2 linked regions of the Homo sapiens genome follow. The protein of the gene in region 1 interacts with the protein of each later gene in a pairwise test. Each region holds a gene or a part of one and is shown on either strand. Other genes may lie near its edges. The genes, in order: PLEKHM1 and SMPD3.

Region 1 (3,820 bases):
CTTTGCAGGGCCATTCCAAACTATGTCAAAAATATACTTGGGGGTAAGATACTTTGATTTCCTTAGGGCCTGTTATCTCCCATGTGATGTTAGACCAGTCAGGTTGGAGTTGGTATCTTAATTGCTGAGAGTCTGTTCTGTCAGTCTTAGGAGTCTGTTTTAATGTTAATGCTGGTCAGTTGTGTCTAAGCTCCAAAAGGGAGAGGCTAGGATGAGGCATGGCCCACGCCCCACTTCGTGTCATGGCCTGAACTCAGTTTTCAGTTTTTTTGAAATCCCTTTGGCCAAGGGGGGCCCATTCAGGCAGTTGGGGAGCTTAGAATTTTATTTTTGGTTTACAGCACTCACTCAGGAATCGGGTTTTCCTAGGGCTGGGGTTGGCTTCCTCCTGGGGGCTGGTGGTGGAGTCAGGCCGCTTATCAGCCCTGGGACCTCAGGAACTTCCTTGACCTGGGTCAGCTGCCATTTCCTTATCTGTCAGGTGGAGACAATAAAACAGCACTCCTAGGGTCCTTAGGAGGAACATAAATTAGGCAATATATGTAAAGAGAACTGAGCCCATTTAACTTTTCTTGGTTTTGTTAACTTCTTTGTGCGGTGATTGAGAGCTGAGACAGACATCACCTTTCCCTTTCCCCTGATGCTCAGCCAGGAGTTGGCTAGAGATTTGTTTACGTGTGAATGTGCCTGCCTGGCCCAGGTCTGTCCAAGTTGCTGTGGTGGGGCCAAGCCAGTCAGCAGCCCCCTCAGGCTCAGGCTAAAGTCCCCACCCCACCCGCCCCACCCCACCCCACCCCACCCCACCCCACCCACTTCCAGGAGGAAGCTGGCAGCCCTGAGGGATTTAACCACTCACTGACTTCAGCTCTTCCTGCATACTCATTTAGGTGATGACATTCTTGGTCTGTAGGTTTAGGTGGCCACATCCACTGGGATGACAGATGCCAGGTACAACATATCAGGTACAGGTACATATCAGGCCCCGTGACAGGCATTTTACACATTCTCCATCTGAGAGGTCTGAGCATGCCTACCTGGTTAGTGGCAAACTGCGATGAGACCTCATGGTCATCCCGGTTAGACACGTCCCTGTCTGTGCTGCTCAAGCCAGACCCTCGAAGCCCAAATGAGGAGCAGAAGTGTAGCAAGGGAGCCCTCCCCTTTTGAAGCCGTTCCAGTGGTACTTTTTACTGCTGAGCTGGCAGATGTTGGACTGGGACAGGAGTGAGGGGTGGGGGCAGGGTGTTGCAGGACCCAGCCCCTGAATGTGATGTGTGAGCCTGTGAGCCCCTGCTTCCTGGTCCCATTGGGTTCCTGCCACCTTCAGCTGCAGCCTCCCCCTCGAACCTGCAGCTCCGTATCTGAATCAGCCTGTCGTTCCCTGCCTACAGGTTTCAATCCTACAGGGCCTTGGCTTTCTGGGCAGCATTTGATGTGAAGCGCCCTTACCACCTACTCCTTGGGGTGGACCCACCCCTGGCACCCAGGACTCCTTGCCTCCCAACGACTAAGCCCCCTGGGCTTTCCTTCCTTGTTTCTTTCCTTCAAATCTATTATCAGTTTTTACTTTTGTGTTCTGCAAAGGCCTTTTTGGTTGCAGTTTGAGTAAGAGAGGCTGACCTCCTGCTGCTTGCTGGGAATGGACTCTGGCTGGGGGAAAGTTCCCTGCCCATTCATCTGGCTGCCATCTGTCTCTTCAGGTGTCATGTGATTCTCTGAGGGAGCAGCTGCGTGAGTGGAGATGCTTTCAGTGGTGGAGAATGGACTGGACCCCCAGGCTGCCATCCCGGTAGGTGGGTGAGGGAGGATCAAGGGCGGGGAAGGGCTGCAGGGGACAGTTGTATCATCGGCTTGGCTCACTTCCTTGGGCACTGTCCTGCAAGAGAGACCAGGTTGAGAAAAAGTTACAGCACAAGCAGGCTCTGAGGAGACCCTGTCTTTTCTAGATCACCTTATTGGTGATAAGATGGAGATTTATGAAAAGCAGTGGGAATTTAAGATCAGTAACCTGAAGACCAAGGATTTCCATTCAGCCCTTCAGCCCTCTGCCCTTAGGCCATGATTTGGTCACAGTCTGGCCAAAGCACTGAATGGGTGGGAAACAGATATTCCCAGGCACTGGTTTGTTGTTTCAGTAATGGGGGTAAATTGGTAACTTACATGTATCTGAACACTTACCATTTTCTAGGATATTCTAAATGTAATTATTTGTGAGCAGTTCACTGGAGCCCCCTAGGACCTTTTCTTGGACAGCCCTTTGCACCCTCCTGGGCTATCTTGGGTACTCCAGATAGAGCTCTCTGTTCTCTTGGAGAGGCAGGAAGTCAGGTAGCTTTGGGGCTGGTCCCTTAGCAGCATCCTGAGATGGCTTTCGGGGAGAAGCCAGGATTTCCTTTCCTCCCCACTGCTGCTTCCCAGCTCAGAGAACTCTGCTTGAAAGAAACTGTAGCTCTCAGAGACGTGCCTTTCCCCGTCCTGGCCACAGGAGAGTCCAGCTCCACCTGTTTCCCAGCTGGCTTTCATGCAGAGGCTCTTCCCTCCCCTCTGCACCCCCACTCTCCCACCCCCAGTGCCTGCCGAATCCCACCCCAGGACCCTCCAGAGCTAGGGCAGAAGCCTGGCCAACCCAGCCTTCTAACAACAGCTGCACAAACTGACTCCATGAGGGTATGCCTTTCTTGAGGGTATGCCTTATTTCTCCCTGTATACCCTAACCCAACACCTAGTAGGTGCTCAATTGAACGAAGTATGTATGTACTTTTTAAATATAATATACAAATAACATCTTGCTTTTAAAAGAACATTTAAAATTAGACTATTTCAAGATTAAAAACTTTTGAGCTTCAAAGGATACTACCAAGAAAATGAAAAGACAACCCACAGAATGGGAGAAAATATTTGCAAATCAAATATCTGATAAGGGTCTAGTATCCAGAATGTATAAAGAACACTTATAACTCAACAATAAAAAGACAAATAATCCAGTTATAAAATGGGTAAAGGATTTAAATAGACCCTTCTCCAAAGAAGATACACACATGGCCAATAAAGATGCTCATTATCATTAGACATCAGGAAAATGCACATCGAAACCACAGTGAGATACTACTTCACACCCCCTAGGATGGCTGTAATAAAAAAGGCAATAACTAGTGCTGGCAAAAATGTGGAGAGATTGGAACTCATATATTGCTGGTGGGAATGTAAAATAGTGCAGCCACTTTGGCACACAGTTTGGCAGTTCCTTGATAAGTTAAACATAGGGTTATGTGTACAGTTCCACTCCTAGATATATACCCAAGAGAACTAGAAATATAAGTCCACTCAAAAACTTGTACATGGATGTTCATAGCAGCATTATTGATAATAGCAAAAGAGTAGAAACAACCCAAATGTCTATTAACTGATGAATGGATGAATAAAATGTGGTATATCTAGGCAGCGGAATATTTTCTGGCAATAAAAAGGGATGAAGTCCTGATACATGCTACAACATGATGGAAAATATGCTAAGTGAAATAAGTCAGATTCAAAGGGTCATATGCTGTATTGATATCTATTCATGTGAGATGTACAAAATATGCAAAGCCACAGAAACAGAAAATAGATTAGTGACTGCATTCACTTCGTATTCCCCTTTCTCCCAGCCCCTGGCAATCACTAATATACAGTATTTCTTTTTGGGGTGATGAAAATCGTTTTTTTTGTTTGTTTTTTTGTTTTTTTGTTTTTTTGTTTTTTTGAGACGGAGTCTCCCTCTGCTGCCCAGGCTGGAGTGCAGTGGCACAATCTTGACTCACTACAAACTCCACCTCCCAGG
Region 2 (3,820 bases), on another chromosome or scaffold:
AGCCCTGGTTAGTGGTTCTAAGATGGGGCTTAGAACCCAGATTTTTTAATGCCTAAAGCATGTTCTTTCCACTGTCCTAAACTGTTGCTCTGTTCATTTAATTACCCAAAGGATACATTTCCGTTAACATAGGCTTCTTTGATCCAATACCAATGCAAAACCCAAATTTTAAGTTGAAATAGCCCAGGCACGGTTGCTCATGCCTATAATCCCAACACTTTGGGAGGCTGAGGCAGGAGGCTTGCTTGAGGCCAAGAGTTCAAGACTAGCCTGGGTAACATAGTGAGACCCCGTCTCTATAAAAAATAAAAACATTAGCTAGGCATGGTGGTGAATGCCTGTAGTCCCAACTACTTGGGAGGCTGAGATGGGAGGATTGCTCGAGCCCAAGAGTTCAAGGCTGCAATGAGCTATGATTGTACCACCACACCCTAGCCTGGGCAACAGAGCAAGATTCTAAAATTTTTTTTAATTTAAAAAATTTTTAAAATAAAGTTGAAATAGAAACAAATAATAGAAAAAAATAGGAAAAGTAGAATGTCTGTCTATATATCTGTTGTCTAATATGGGGCCATAAGCACTTGAAATATGTCTAGTGGCAATTAAGATGTGCTATAAGTATAAAACATACACTAGCTTTTGAAAAATTAGTATAAAAAATGTAAAATGTTGCATTAGTAATGGTAATATTGATTACAGGTTAAAATAATATTTTAGATATATTAAGTAAAATATATTTAAATTAATTTCACTTGTTTCTTTTTACTTTTATAATGTGGCCACTAGAAAATTTATATTGTATATGTGGCTTGCATTTATAACTCACATTATATTTCTACTGGGCAGTGTTGTTCTAGACTGTTTCCATTTAGGAGGATATTTTCTTTATAAACTGAGGCATTTAGCAAAGTAGGTCTGTAATCAATTAGCCTGGGATTTGAATCCTGGCTCTGCTATTTGGGCTGCATAAACTTGAGCAAGTTGTGCCTTAGTTTCCTCACCTGCAGAATGAGGTGATAATAAAGCCTACCTCCTAGGTTTTGAGCTAAATCACTTAGAACAGTGACTGACAGGTCCAGAGTGAGTGTTCACTTAATATTAACTATTGTTATTACTATTGGAGGAAGCTTATGAAGTGTTACAAGATAAGGGCAACAGGAAGGAGAGCAAGCAGACAATTTTCAGATAAATCAAGCAAAAGATTTATTACTAGTTAAAACATGATTGAAAACACTTGCTAAGTATGCGGCCCCTATTTTCTGGCAGATAATGATGTCGAGGAAAGATTTCAATCCATTTACATAAGCATACAATGAATAAACAAATTAGCTAACTGCATTGTGCACAGGTCTTGACTTCAGCTAATGAGTTGAGGAAGAGGATGATTGTACCAGATGACTCAAGAGCTCTAAGTCTCTTGGACTCCCAGATTCCTCAGGGGAATCAGGGGAATGACAACCTTGTGCTCTGGGAGAAAAATTCTGGACAGGAATCAGACATACCCAAGGTCAAAGCTACTCTGCCACTTATTGGCCTTTGACAAGACACTGAGTCTCAGTTTTCTGTTCTGTAAAATGGAGATAGTACCAACTCTGTTGCAGGTTGTAGTGAGGATTAAATTAGATAATACAAATAAAACATCAGGTACATAGTAGGCACTCAACAAATGACAGCTGTGACTAAATGGGATTTCAGGTATTCTTTAATAGAGAACTTTTTGTTATTTAATATAGAATTTGCAGTTCAGGCCAAGCGCAGTGGCTCACGCCTATAATCCCAGCACTTTGAGAGGTCGAGGCGAGTGGATTTATTTAGTCCAGGAGTTCAAGACCAGCCTGGGCAACATGGTGAAACCCCATCTCTACTAAAAATACAAAATATTTGCCAGGCATGGTGGTGTGCACCTGTAGTCCCAGCTACTCAGGAGGAGGCTGAGGTGGGAGGATCACCTGAGCATGGGAGGTAGAGGCTGCAGTGAGCCAACATTGCACCACTGTACTCCAGCTTGGGCTACTGGAATGAGACCGTCTCAAAAAAACAATGAAAAAAAGAAAGAGAATTTGCTGTTCAGAATCTTCAGTGCCTTTTCTACAACTCTACTGCGTCATTCCCCATCCTTATTCAGTGCCTGAGGAGATTGAAAGGACAGTTTCACCTGATTAAGTGTGTCTACACCAAAACGTAGGATATCAGTAACTTTGGGCACACTCTACACAATCTTTCATGTTCTTCTCTGTCCAATTAACACACATGAGGCTCTTTCCTGGGATAATGAGGCAAGTAGCAAAATGGGCATTGTTCTCCATCATGTTTACCCTGAAGTTCTGACCTCGGTGTTTACAGCACTTTACAAGTAGCTTTGCTTTTAAAAAGAGAGAACGTAAATCTGGAAACCAGAGCCCAGAGCCATTTCTCCTGACTCCTAGGGCAGGCCATGGGTCCATTCACTGCATAGCTCTGAGGGAACACATATTGTTGCTGTTCTCAACCATCACCTTTTTTTCCAAAAGTTTGCCTTCTGGAGGAAGACAGCCAAAGAAATATGTATTAAGCTCAGTGAAGGCTTATGTTAACAGAGCACGTTGAACTGTAAAGAAAATACTCAGATTAGTCCTACAGGAAAAGTGAGGATCACTTCAAATGTTTTAGCAGGAGAGCAACACAGATTTCCTGACTCAAAGCATAGCGGGTGAATTGAGGTGGAAGGAGGCTCACCTCTGGTTCTGTTGGGAGGCCCCTGACTTTCAGGTACCAAGTACCAGTGCTAAGTTATTTGGGGATAGTCTGGTGTTAATATGCACATTTTCCTACTCATTCTTTCTTTTGTTAATTCAACAAATGCCAAATGATGGATAGCTAGAGTGGGGTGTTTTGAGAACCCTTCCCCAGGAGGAGACCAGGGTCTGGCTGGGGAGAGGAGAGATGCTCATATGCAGAGTGAACCAAGGAACGGGGGCTGGAGTAACCACAGGAGTCCTGATTAAGGCAAGTTGGCTATGGCAGTGGAAAAGCTATGGATGCCAACCAAACTTGAGTCTGAATCACATTTTTACCATCAAATGTGTGGCCTTGGGCAAGTGCTTTAACCTTTCCAGACTTCATCTTTCTCCTCTGGGGCAATAAAACTAACTTTTCCCGCCATGGCAATTACATGGCAACATATATGAAAATGCTTAGAGACAATACTAACCCTCGTTCAAGTGTTTACAGTGGGTCAGGCATTGTGCTCAGCAATACATATGTGTAAAAGAATACCATTATTATCCTTACTTTACGGCTGAGGAAAGCAATGCTCAGGGACTTTAAGTAACTTGCTTAAGGTCACGCAGACAGTAAGAGGACCAGGACCCCAACCCAGGCAATCTGACTGCAGAGCCTGTTCTTAACCACTGAGATCACTGCTTCTCTGGTTCAAGATCAGCAAGAACCCAGTAACTATTATTTTGAAGGAGGGAGGGTGATTTGTGGGTCAACTTGTGGAGAAGTCTTATGCTTGGTCTTCAAGCATGGGTACAATATGGATAATCTCTGAGGGGTGAGTGGGATGGGGAAGGAAGGCAAGGGAAAGTTGTGATCAAATGAACAGGGGTAGGAATGACAATGGTATGTTTGGGAGCACTGAAATGGAGAAGAGTTTCCATATGAAATAGATGTTTGGAAAGAAGAGTTGAGAAAGCCTTGAATGTCAGACTAACAAGTGTTAGAGAACCAAAAAAGCTCATAGGCAAAGAAAGGGATATGAAATCTGAGGCCATCAGTTTGAGGCATCTCACTGAATCTGGGTAATTTGTTGCAGTGTTGAGTGTGCTCACCAAGTGTC

What was found.
Region 2: the proteins of PLEKHM1 (region 1) and SMPD3 interact in a two-hybrid assay, tested with the Homo sapiens proteins (one large-scale study listed by IntAct).

What each region holds. Positions count from the first base shown.
Region 1 is NC_000017.11:45,480,406-45,484,225, reverse strand, and holds part of PLEKHM1 (pleckstrin homology domain-containing family M member 1), read left to right. Parts: intron 1-1,700; coding exon of another isoform or gene 1,701-1,741; coding exon 1,742-1,789; intron 1,790-3,820. UniProt on the Homo sapiens protein: Acts as a multivalent adapter protein that regulates Rab7-dependent and HOPS complex-dependent fusion events in the endolysosomal system and couples autophagic and the endocytic trafficking pathways.
Region 2 is NC_000016.10:68,438,427-68,442,246, reverse strand, and holds part of SMPD3 (sphingomyelin phosphodiesterase 3), read left to right. Parts: intron 1-3,820. UniProt on the Homo sapiens protein: Catalyzes the hydrolysis of sphingomyelin to form ceramide and phosphocholine. Ceramide mediates numerous cellular functions, such as apoptosis and growth arrest, and is capable of regulating these 2 cellular events independently.